Regions from separate parts of the Homo sapiens genome. Here region 1 is reported to be linked to region 2. The links are microRNA targets in miRTarBase. Many come from high-throughput screens and were not tested one by one. Region 2 holds a microRNA gene; the other region holds the end of a gene's coding sequence.

Region 1 (5,381 bases), not on the chromosome of region 2:
CCCCGGAGCCAGCTCAGAACGGACGTGCCGTCTCCCCGCGCCTCCTGCCCCTGCCCATTAATCATCGGATTTGTCACCGGCACAATTAACAGCCCTGCCCAGAGCGTGGTTTAGGGTTGCTTGTTTTTCTTCCCTTCGGGGTTAACAGTCCGGTGGCGCTTCTCATCTCCAAAGCCATCAACTCCATTGTGTGCATCTGGGGTGGGGTGGAGAAAGTAAACAGTTTCTCGCCTGGCCATAGGTGCCAGTGGCTTCCCGACTGGCCGAGGCTGCGCGCCTGATTCCTGTTTTGGCGGCTCAACCGGTTGGTTCCTGGAGATTGTTTTGTCCGGTACTACTGTGTTATTTCTAAAACCCTGCCCGCTTTTTCCATCCCCGCACATGCACAACAACGGATGCAATCCTGGACATTTTAAAAAGTTGATAGTTTTCATTTTCGCTCCTCAAAGGAGCCTGGGGTAGGAGGAATCCGCAGTGGGAGCTAACGATCCTAAGCGTTGTTTCTCTGTTCTTCTTTTCTTCTATAGAACATTATAAACATCACTGGTTCCCAGAAAAGCCATGCAAGGGATCGGGTTACCGTTGTATTCGCATCAACCATAAAATGGATCCTCTGATTGGACAGGCAGCACAGCGGATTGGACTGAGCAGTCAGGAGCTGTTCAGGCTTCTCCCAAGTGAACTCACACTCTGGGTTGACCCCTATGAAGTGTCCTACAGAATTGGAGAGGATGGCTCCATCTGTGTGCTGTATGAAGCCTCACCAGCAGGAGGTAGCACTCAAAACAGCACCAACGTGCAAATGGTAGACAGCCGAATCAGCTGTAAGGAGGAACTTCTCTTGGGCAGAACGAGCCCTTCCAAAAACTACAATATGATGACTGTATCAGGTTAAGATATAGTCTGTGGATGGATCATCTGATGATGATGGATAAATTTGATTTTTGCTTTGGGTGGGCTCCTCTTGGGGATGGATTATGGAATTTAAACCATGTCACAGCTGTGAAGATCTGGCACAAGATAGAATGGTAAAAAAAAAAAAAATTTTAAGTGACAGTGCCATAGTTTGGACAGTACCTTTCAATGATTAATTTTAATAGCCTGTGAGTCCAAGTAAATGATCACTTTATTTGCTAGGGAGGGAAGTCCTAGGGTGGTTTCAGTTTCTCCCAGACATACCTAAATTTTTACATCAATCCTTTTAAAGAAAATCTGTATTTCAAAGAATCTTTCTCTGCAGTAAATCTCGCAGGGGAATTTGCACTATTACACTTGAAAGTTGTTATTGTTAACCTTTTCGGCAGCTTTTAATAGGAAAGTTAAACGTTTTAAACATGGTAGTACTGGAAATTTTACAAGACTTTTACCTAGCACTTAAATATGTATAAATGTACATAAAGACAAACTAGTAAGCATGACCTGGGGAAATGGTCAGACCTTGTATTGTGTTTTTGGCCTTGAAAGTAGCAAGTGACCAGAATCTGCCATGGCAACAGGCTTTAAAAAAGACCCTTAAAAAGACACTGTCTCAACTGTGGTGTTAGCACCAGCCAGCTCTCTGTACATTTGCTAGCTTGTAGTTTTCTAAGACTGAGTAAACTTCTTATTTTTAGAAAGTGGAGGTCTGGTTTGTAACTTTCCTTGTACTTAATTGGGTAAAAGTCTTTTCCACAAACCACCATCTATTTTGTGAACTTTGTTAGTCATCTTTTATTTGGTAAATTATGAACTGGTGTAAATTTGTACAGTTCATGTATATTGATTGTGGCAAAGTTGTACAGATTTCTATATTTTGGATGAGAAATTTTTCTTCTCTCTATAATAAATCGTTTCTTATCTTGGCATTTTAATCAATCTCTTGTCATGATTATAGAGGTTTAGCTAAAAGTATTTTTTCTTAGAAGACAGGTTCTATAAACTGAATCTCTGTTGCACACTGGTCATGCTGGAAAAACATTTGATGAGGAATGAAGATGCTCTGTATATACATGTTTAGGTTTTACAGGAAACACAGGAGTAGCATGTTTTAAAAATTTCTAAAGTCAAAACATGGACACATTCACAGGCTAATGATCTCATGAAATAAGGATAAGAGACCACGGTAGCATCTACCAAAAATGTGATACTCAAAGGATTACATTTCATTGCTTCCCTGTTGAAGTGAAGATATAAATGTTCCATTCTGACCCACCTTTGAAAAACAATTACTTTGCCCCATGGATTCTTTGTTCAATTAGAAATTTCCCCGGGGCAGGTGACCCATAGTCTTAAAGAACAGGCTAAACACCACAGAGAGATTGGTTGCTTTTTGCTTTTCATCACCTGCAAGATGTACATAAAAATCACATAAGCTGGAATTCAACAAAAGGTATGTTTATGAACTTTTATTCTCAAAAGTTGAAATGCTGACTTTCTCGATTCCTCATTTTCAGACTTTTATTTCAGATAAATACTAAAAACCTAAGTGAACCTTGATAATGCTGTAGTGTAGATTACTTCACTACCCCATATAATAGAAGGACTTGCTGTTTAGTTGTAGAGGATAACAGCGTTTTTCAGTGGAAATTGAAAGTGGAAAAATTGAATTTTGCTCTACACAGTTAACATATAGTGGCCTTTTTTTGGTATATATGTAAACATGTTGACACTGGAAATACGCAGTCTGAAATAAAATTAGTAATTACTTGAAATTAGTAATCTCAAATAACTTTTAAGAAGTTATTTCTACACCCAGGAATAAATTATTCTGATTTTGTAGACAACACAGGAATAGGCCACTGAATATGCAGGTATTTAGAGTACAAATGTCTGTGGATATTATTGGCACACCATTCTCGAGAGTTAGAATTCGTAGACCCGCAACACATGGACTACCCTTGCCAATTGTTATGGTTTTATTTTTAAACCTATTCTGTGAAAAAGCTCCTCGGTATTTCAAACTTGAATTACAATAAAAACACCAGGTAGGGTTGTTTTTAAATGGGTCTCACCCCAGTGCTGACTACTGTTGTTTACCAACTACATTTCATCTGGTAACTCCATTGAAACTAAGTACCTCAACCATTTTTTTTTTTTATCATAAAGCCTTTTTTCAAATGGAAAGTTGTTTTTGAAGATCTTGACATCAGACTTTTTCAATCTTTGAAAATGATGGAAACAGTTAATAAAAATGTTTATTTTAGAATTCAGGTGATGTCTGGCTTGTGAGGAGCTGTTTATAAGTTTGTCTTTGAAAAAGGCTTGCACACATCACTCTGAGACCAGCTGTTTCCTGTGACTTTAACCTTACCTTCCCCAGACAATTGAGCTGAACCTGTATCTGCGGTACAGTAGCTGTTTGTGATGTATTTCTTGTTCACTGTTTCTGGGGAATGTTTTGAAATATTTTATTATAAATCCTTTTAAGATAGGATGACTACTTTCAAAATTATTGTTGCCTTTGGCACCAGGAATTCATAGTTGTGATTGGCAGTAAGTTTGAGGAGTGTTACTTTCTAAGTTTTAACAGGTAGTTTTGAAATTATTTCCTTTTTTCCAAATTTAAGTAGTGCCTCCCTCTGTAATGTTGAAACAAGGCTTCAAGTGGATTGTATAGCAAGAGTTACCCTGGTTCATGCAGGATAATGCGGCTGTTATCTTTGTCATCTGGAATGGGAATCTCATGTCTTTATCCTTATGTGCAATATTTCTATAATAATAGACTGGAAAGGCCACCAGAAAGTGGCTTTCAGGTACATTGCACAAATAGTTTCCTTAAGTCATTATAACTCACACATTGCAAGTAATTAATTTTGTTTTGTATAGGTGTTGCAGTTTATGAAATTGGCCTTCAAGTTAAAAGGAAGGAAGCCGTATTCCCGATGGCTAGTGTTTAATGACTACAGGTTTCCAGGCTCCCTTTAATCTTGGGAGCAAATAAATCTACTATTGGACTTCTCCCTGCGTGACTTTTAACATTTCTGATACTCTCTCTTCTTCCTCTTTACAGAAGAGAGGTATGATAACTGAAGTTGTACTTTGCATATTGAAGTTTAAAGATACTTCCTCTCCCCTTTTCACCCCTATTTCAAATGATGTGATAAAATCCTCTTGATAGGCTATATGGAGAACATTTGTCAATAGTTTTATCTATGCATGGAAGTCTTCAAAAAGTATATCTTGGATTGTCTAAAACTGAATAGATTTCTTATTTATCTGAAGGTATACAGACTGCCAACATTTTAGACTTATCTCTCAGTCTCTGCCACTGAACTTTTATATATGGCTGCTATCAAAATATAACCGGTTTATTTTCATATTTGGAACTAATATAACAGTATCACAAAATCTTTTACAGTAAGATAGTTTGTAATACCAGCCGACCCAGCTGCTTAACTGAGTCCTTAAATCATTTAATATATGGGACTGTAAATAGAGAAATCTGTACATTATGAGATCTGATTTCTGGTTATGCCTATAGATCTTTATTTTCTTTATCCCTATAGATCATTTTCTTCTGATGTTAAGTGTTATATTTTTGAAATGCTCCTAAACAAGTAAGCCTTAGATTGTATTAATCCTGAGGATTGATACCATTTCCTCAACACTTTGTGGAGTATGATTGACACCAGTTTTTTTTTGACTGCAGGTTTAACTTGGCTTATCACTTTTCGTATTGCTCAGTATGTCCAAGATAGGAATAAAAAAATGTAGTTCAACTTCTGACTGTTATTTATGAGCCTTTTCATGGTATTTATCATTTTAGTATTGAAGATGCAGTGTTCTTTTGGGAATTACGTATGCTTAGAAGAGAGTACTGATGCTCAAAGGTGAAATGATTTGAATCTAGAGTTGGATAAAAAGGGAAAGGATGGGGAAAATGAAAACTGGGAAGCTAAACTGAGAAGGAATTGCAAGGTTTGGTGATAAAAATTCATTTGCTATGGTCATAGTTGTGTATCGAGAGGTTTGCACAGCACAGTCTCTTGGCAGAGTTTAGGAATCTCTACTCTGGGGATTCTGCAGTTCATGAATCGTCAGGGAGACTCTGCATTCAATTTGTTTCTGTGAACATGCAGGTGAAAGTGGTAGTACAGGTGGAACTTCATGGGAACTGGTTTTGGGGGAGGTGTGGATGGAAAGCACAAATGTCTCAGTATTTTCTAAAGGGAGACTATTTTTAAAGGTGTCTTGTTACAAACCACTTGATTATAGCCTCTTTTCTTGTACCTTTAAGTTGTGAAGGCCATTTGTGACTCATTCCTGGTGGTAGAAAAATGACCAAGTGTAGGCCAGACATATAACATCACATTAGTACCATTATAGTTAACTGGATCCCTGTATTTGGAGAATATTACATCAAACACTATGTATAATTTCAAATTGTAGCATTAATAGGAGAT
Region 2 (5,381 bases):
CTTAGGTAGCAGTTTTATGTTAAAATGGGGGAGGGGACCAATTTAATTCTGCATTTAGGAAAATTCTAATATATGACGGCACTTCGGGAAATAAAAATGAGATGGTTATGCTTTCTTACAGACACCCTGGCTAGTTTTACATTTCTTTTCAAATTTTGTTTTGTGTACCCCAGGGAGCAAAGAATGGCTTGTACATTCCTCAGAGGGCAAGGAGGGGGAGTGGCGAAGAGAGAAGTTGGCTCTGGGTGTAACTCTGCCAACTGTTGGAGGGCAGCAAGGGGAGGGTGGTCTTTTAAGTGAGTTTGGGATCTGGTTACCTTTAATTCGCCTCCCAGGCCGCATCTTGCACTAATGGGAGTCTGTCAGCGGTGGACTCAGATTTCCCCACTTGCCTCGGATAGTGGAAGCATAGGGGCAAACAGCAGAGTAGGCCGCTCTGCCAGAGAGAAGAGAGACGTATGCCCTGCCCCTGGAGCTGGGGGTGCAGGCTGAAGGATGGGTGGGCACCGAGAGCTTCTCCGCAGGCATAGTGAAAGGCCTACAGACCAGGAGGAAGCTCCACCTTTTAAAAGCCTCTTCTGGGGTGGGAGTTTCCTGGGATGGGTTCTGCAACCCCTCTTAGAAAAATCCACCTTTCATACCTAAAATCAAATGGTTCAGAACCGAGCCAATGTATTTGGCCGTGTACCAGTGCTTAGAACAGAGTTGTTTCTTCGTGCAGAAGCCATTAAAAAACACACTGTACACGCCCCCAGCACTTTACAGTTTATAAGACATTTTTCACTGACACCAACTCACCTAATTCTGTAAGCCCAGGTGACAGGCAGACTCATTCTCACTGTAGGGTCGAGGAAATGCAGTCATTGAAAGAAACCAAGCAGCTTGTCCAAAGTCACAGTTAGGAAATGCCTAATCCCTGTTGGAACGCCTTCTGCAAGGCCTTTCTCATCCCGCTTCTTCCTGTCGCCTCCTCCCTTGAAACAGACGGCTCCCCACAAGGTTCAGCCTGGCACTTTCAGAATGCCCTTCCAACCTCCTCCCTTCACTACTTTATTCTGCAGCTTGTACCACCGGGGACACAGGTGGAGTCCGGGGACACAAGGCTCTGGAACCCACTTTCTTTCAGATCACATACCCCTCAGGACAGTTTCTCAAGGGACTCACGTTAAAAATACCCACCTCTCACACACTCATGTCAGCCTTTCATGTTCTCACTACCAAGACTCACCCTATAAACCATGTGAAATAAATAACCTCAAATATAACTCTTAATTGCTTCCAAGTCAATGTTTCCTCATCACTAAACTTTATTGCCTCCCAATCTTTAGGACAAACTCCCCTCGGGACTCTGTTCCTCCCAGGACACAGGCGGGGGAAAGGAGGAAATCAGCTTCTCGAGATTCGACCTAGGCTTCCGGGGCCTGAGAATAAGCAAGGATGTCAGGAGGCTCAGAGCCTGGGAGGGAAGGAGAGGCGTCCGGGGCTGGGGCTGGACCATTCCAGACAAACCGCGAAGTTTTCCGTCTGCTCGTCGCCCCCTACAGGCCACATCTGCCATCGCATCGACAGCCCTCAACAGCCGGCACATGTTTTGCTCTACTCTTCATTCGCCTTTCCCCGGACATCCAGATCCACCCCTCCGAGGAACTAGATACGGGCGGTCCCAACTCAGACCTTGGTCCTGAGAACGCTCTAGGGGCCACAGGCCTCAGGGCTGGATTGATTTTTCTAGGAATGAGTGCTAGAGAAAGTAGAAACGTCTAAATGCGTGTGTAGCCGAAAGCTAAAATCTTCCCCATAAAAATCAACCCGCTTTCTTCTTTTATTGCAAATAAATCTGCCCCCCTTCCTTTAGTTTTTTTTTCTTAAGTGGAATAAAAAGTGGATATCAGTAGTGTTGACTTTAAATCTCAACGAGAGAGCTGTTTCCAGTGCCGTTTGTCGCAGGTGCCTGCGTTCCATAACATCAAACAAGGGTTTCAGGCTTCCCCCAGCCCCACCACTAAGTGCTTGCGATCATTGTCTATGATATTTGCATTTCCCATTTTGTGCTAAATCTTCGAGGTTTAAAAAGCTTAAACGAAAAAGAGCTTTTGAGGGTGCGACGGCCGGGCCCATCTTCCTGACATCTGCCAGGACTTTAAACAACCGCTGGCAGCTTGAGGGTCTGGGTCCGAGAGTTTCCTGCCTTCCACGACATAAAGGAAGGGGACCATCTTTAGGCCGTCGTTCAAGGGTAAGAACTGGCTGGAAGGAAAGTTGCCGGCAGGTCTCTCCCGTTCACCCCGCCGCCTAATGAATGTAGCGCTGGAAAAAGCCCTGCGAGTCTCCGGCGGTGGCTTGTGGCTGAGTGTCACGCTGCTGGCGCAGGCTCGGCCGGTATTGCTGCTATGCGCGGAAATATGAGCGAGTAATTTTATAAGTAACAAAGGATCAGGGATGGAATGAGGCCCCTGTTATCCAATGTCATTTAGAAGCCTTGGATCAGCAGCTTCTTGAGGCTAAAAGTGAATTCAAGAAGCCCTGCCTTTCCCTTTTCCCAGGGGCTGTCAGCTAAATTTAGAAATAACCTCTCTATGTGTTTGCACAAATCATGTACCATTTGCTGTTTGTGTAAAAACCGATTAGCCAGACACAACTGTGAAACAACTTGTTACTTTTATAGCTGCAACACACAAACAAAATTAGATCCGTTTAGTTTTCCTTGTAAAAGGAGATTAGAAGGGACCCGCCCGGAGACCGTGTGGTCCATAATCTCCTCTCGGTGAAGGTTACCATTGCTCCTCTCTCGGCGGTGGTTATCAGGTTCTTGTTTATCAAGTTAAACTATCTCACCCCCGGCAGCTTGTTTTATTTTAGGACCCTGATCCCGAAGGAATGTTTACTCAAGACACAATAATGTTTACCGTTTACCAGGAAAACAGATTGGGTATTTGCAAGGAAGTGTCTTTCAAAGCGACCCCCAGCCCACGTCGACAGCGGAGAAATGAGGTGGGATCCGAGACGGGGAGGCATCTCCACCACCAGGGAGGCAAAGTGGACGACAACACCGGGGACTGGCCGGGATTAACCAAAAGGACGCGCGCAGGGCCGAGCCGACAGCACTGCTACTCGCTCCAGTTTTTAAAAGCGATTTCGCACAAGTAATTGTAACAGCTAAATTAATTACAAAATAATTAGAATTGATGCCTTTTGAGGATATGCTGATGGTGGTGAGAACCAGCCTTCCACATCAAGATGTTTCATTTCTACCTTCATACTTTCTTTTAAAAGTTTTTAACAGCTGAAATGCAAATTAAAAATAATCTACAAGGACCTTCCCCATTCCTGCCCTATGATGTCGCATTTCACACTAACCTAGCCTAAGGTAAAGAAAAAAAAGGGGAGAGAGGTGATGTTCAGCTGTTTTTAAAAGGGTATTAAGGCCACCATTCCTTGGCCTTCAGAAAGGCTTTGGGTTGGAGGGAGAGGAAGCATCTATAGGACCCCTTCAGAAATCCAATTATGTTGTGGATTGATTATTGCCATATAAATGAGATATCTTATTTGAAAATATTATGAAAACAAAACTATGTATTATCTATCAGATGAACATAAATAAAATCCCACTGCAAAATGTAAAGTGCCTTAACATAAATTTTAAAACCAGCTGGGTCTATTTACCACTTCCACTTAAGGAATGAAAAGAAATAATTTCAAAAATCTAAGATTTAAATGTTAAAAAGAGGGATGTTTGGAATTTACTTACTTTTCAAAGGATAATTGAAATGACCAAGAACTCTCTCATTTGGGAAGTTTTCATTGTGGAAGATACAAGTCTAGTCATTTTTTAAAAAAATTTAAAGACTGCTGTTGTTTCGGTTTCTTTTTTTAAATGACAGCTTACTTTATCTACAGAAATGTCTGGTCATTTAGATTTAATGGGTTGATATGAATGATATCACTCACATCCTGATTTTATGTGAAAACTAAAAGAAAAATAGTAACACAATTTAAATTAGGCATACTATTTCCTTTCTCCAATTAAAATTTTCTTACACTCAAATTATGAATTTAAAAAGTTTGAAAAGGCCATTACTTGAAATTCCTTGATTTTCTGGGGAGGAGAAAAGGCAAATAAATACCATTTAAAAATCTTGCCATTTACTTCAGACAACTAAATAAAACACTAGGCTGGGCATTTTAAAAATTTATTTACAAAGTTGTGTACAACACGATGGAATAACATTTAGAATACCATATATATTCATTCATATATAAACAGACTTTTATAATAGAATGACACTTTTTGCCTTTTTGAAAATTTTTTATATTTAAAATCTCCCAACGTCTCTATACATTCTTTTCTCAGATAAAACTTCGGAGAGTGAACCTTCAAAAAAAATGAAAGTTCAGAGCTCTAAATCTACGGAATTTGTTTTTTCTTAAAAAAATAAAAACCCCAAAAGGAAAGTCAATAATTTTTTTACAAATATATACAAAGAATTTCCCTCCCATCCCCACGGTACTAAGAGCAGGCGCCGTCGGGGTGCATTTTTGGAAAATTCGGTTTTCGGTTTTACCTGTATGGAAAGCTATCCCCGGCGGGCGCGCGGTGAGTTTGCTCGACCAGCTTAGGTGTGCGCGAGGGGATGGAGGCCGCGGAAGGTAGGCGTTGGGGGCTCAGGGGAAAGGAAATTGGGGAGAGGCAGAGTCCAGGATTGGGCAGCGGGACCGGGACCGGGCTTGGGACAGGGCGCGCAGCCTGGAGGTGCATTTGTTGCTCGAGGCCGCCGCCGGACCCTGGGTCCCGGCCATTGGCGCGTCCCTATTGCGCCGGCCATTTGGCTTGAGCGGCGGCCGCAGCAGCGGCGGCGGCCGAGGCTGCGGGCTGCAGAAACTGTCCGGAGAGTGGCACGCTAAGAATGGGCGCGATGGTGGCAGTCGTCCGGCTCAGCGACAGCGGTTGGTGGGTGGCCATGAGCGCTGCCGACTGCACGGTCCCGGGTGGCCGCAGAAACGACTGCGCCGTGCTGCCGCCCCCTGAACCCCCAGTGCCGCCGGCGACCCCAGCGCCCACCGCCGAGCCCCCAGGAGCCGCGGGGCCCCCACCTATGATGTTCTCGATGCTGAACGACGGCCGCGCGCTTGGCTCGGACTTGATGAGCGACGCGGTGGTGCCCGCGGCGCCCGCTGTGCCCGCAGCGGCCGCGGCGGCGCCCAGGCTATTGAGCTGCAGCTGCAGGCCCGGGCCGAGCTGTGAGCCGAAGGCGGCCGCTTTGCGGCCCAGCTCGCCCGAGGGCAGCAGCGGCACAGCGGGAGGCAGCACCGGTGCCACCGGCGGCAGCGCGTACGGGTACTGGAGCGCCGCCGCAGCAGCCGCGGCCGCCGCCGCTGCCGGG

What was found. Region 2 holds the annotated microRNA hsa-miR-6068 (CCUGCGAGUCUCCGGCGGUGG, at 2,319-2,339, shown strand). A microRNA usually pairs through its seed, bases 2 to 8, with sites in the 3' UTR of a target mRNA and lowers its output. Matches are read on the target gene's strand: a 7mer-m8 pairs with bases 2 to 8, a 7mer-A1 pairs with bases 2 to 7 and ends in A, and an 8mer does both.
Region 1: miRTarBase lists BTG1 as a target of hsa-miR-6068. Seed matches in the 3' UTR shown: 7mer-m8 at 1,246-1,252.

What each region holds. Positions count from the first base shown.
Region 1 is chr12:92,139,594-92,144,974 of GRCh38, reverse strand. It overlaps BTG1 (BTG anti-proliferation factor 1), which reads left to right. Exons shown (of 2, transcript NM_001731.3): 2 at 528-4,697. The coding sequence ends at 895. It overlaps LINC01619 (long intergenic non-protein coding RNA 1619), which reads left to right and starts at 2,144. Exons shown (of 5, transcript NR_132341.1): 1 at 2,144-2,368. RefSeq lists enhancers at 1-148, 108-157, 418-467, 488-727, 2,755-3,044.
Region 2 is chr1:63,323,922-63,329,302 of GRCh38, reverse strand. MIR6068 (microRNA 6068) reads left to right here and starts at 2,319; the gene lies at 2,319-2,378. It overlaps FOXD3 (forkhead box D3), which reads right to left. Exons shown (of 1, transcript NM_012183.3): 1 at 4,175-5,381. The coding sequence ends at 4,808. It overlaps FOXD3-AS1 (FOXD3 antisense RNA 1), which reads left to right and starts at 4,862. Exons shown (of 3, transcript NR_121637.1): 1 at 4,862-4,948. RefSeq lists an enhancer at 1,821-2,689.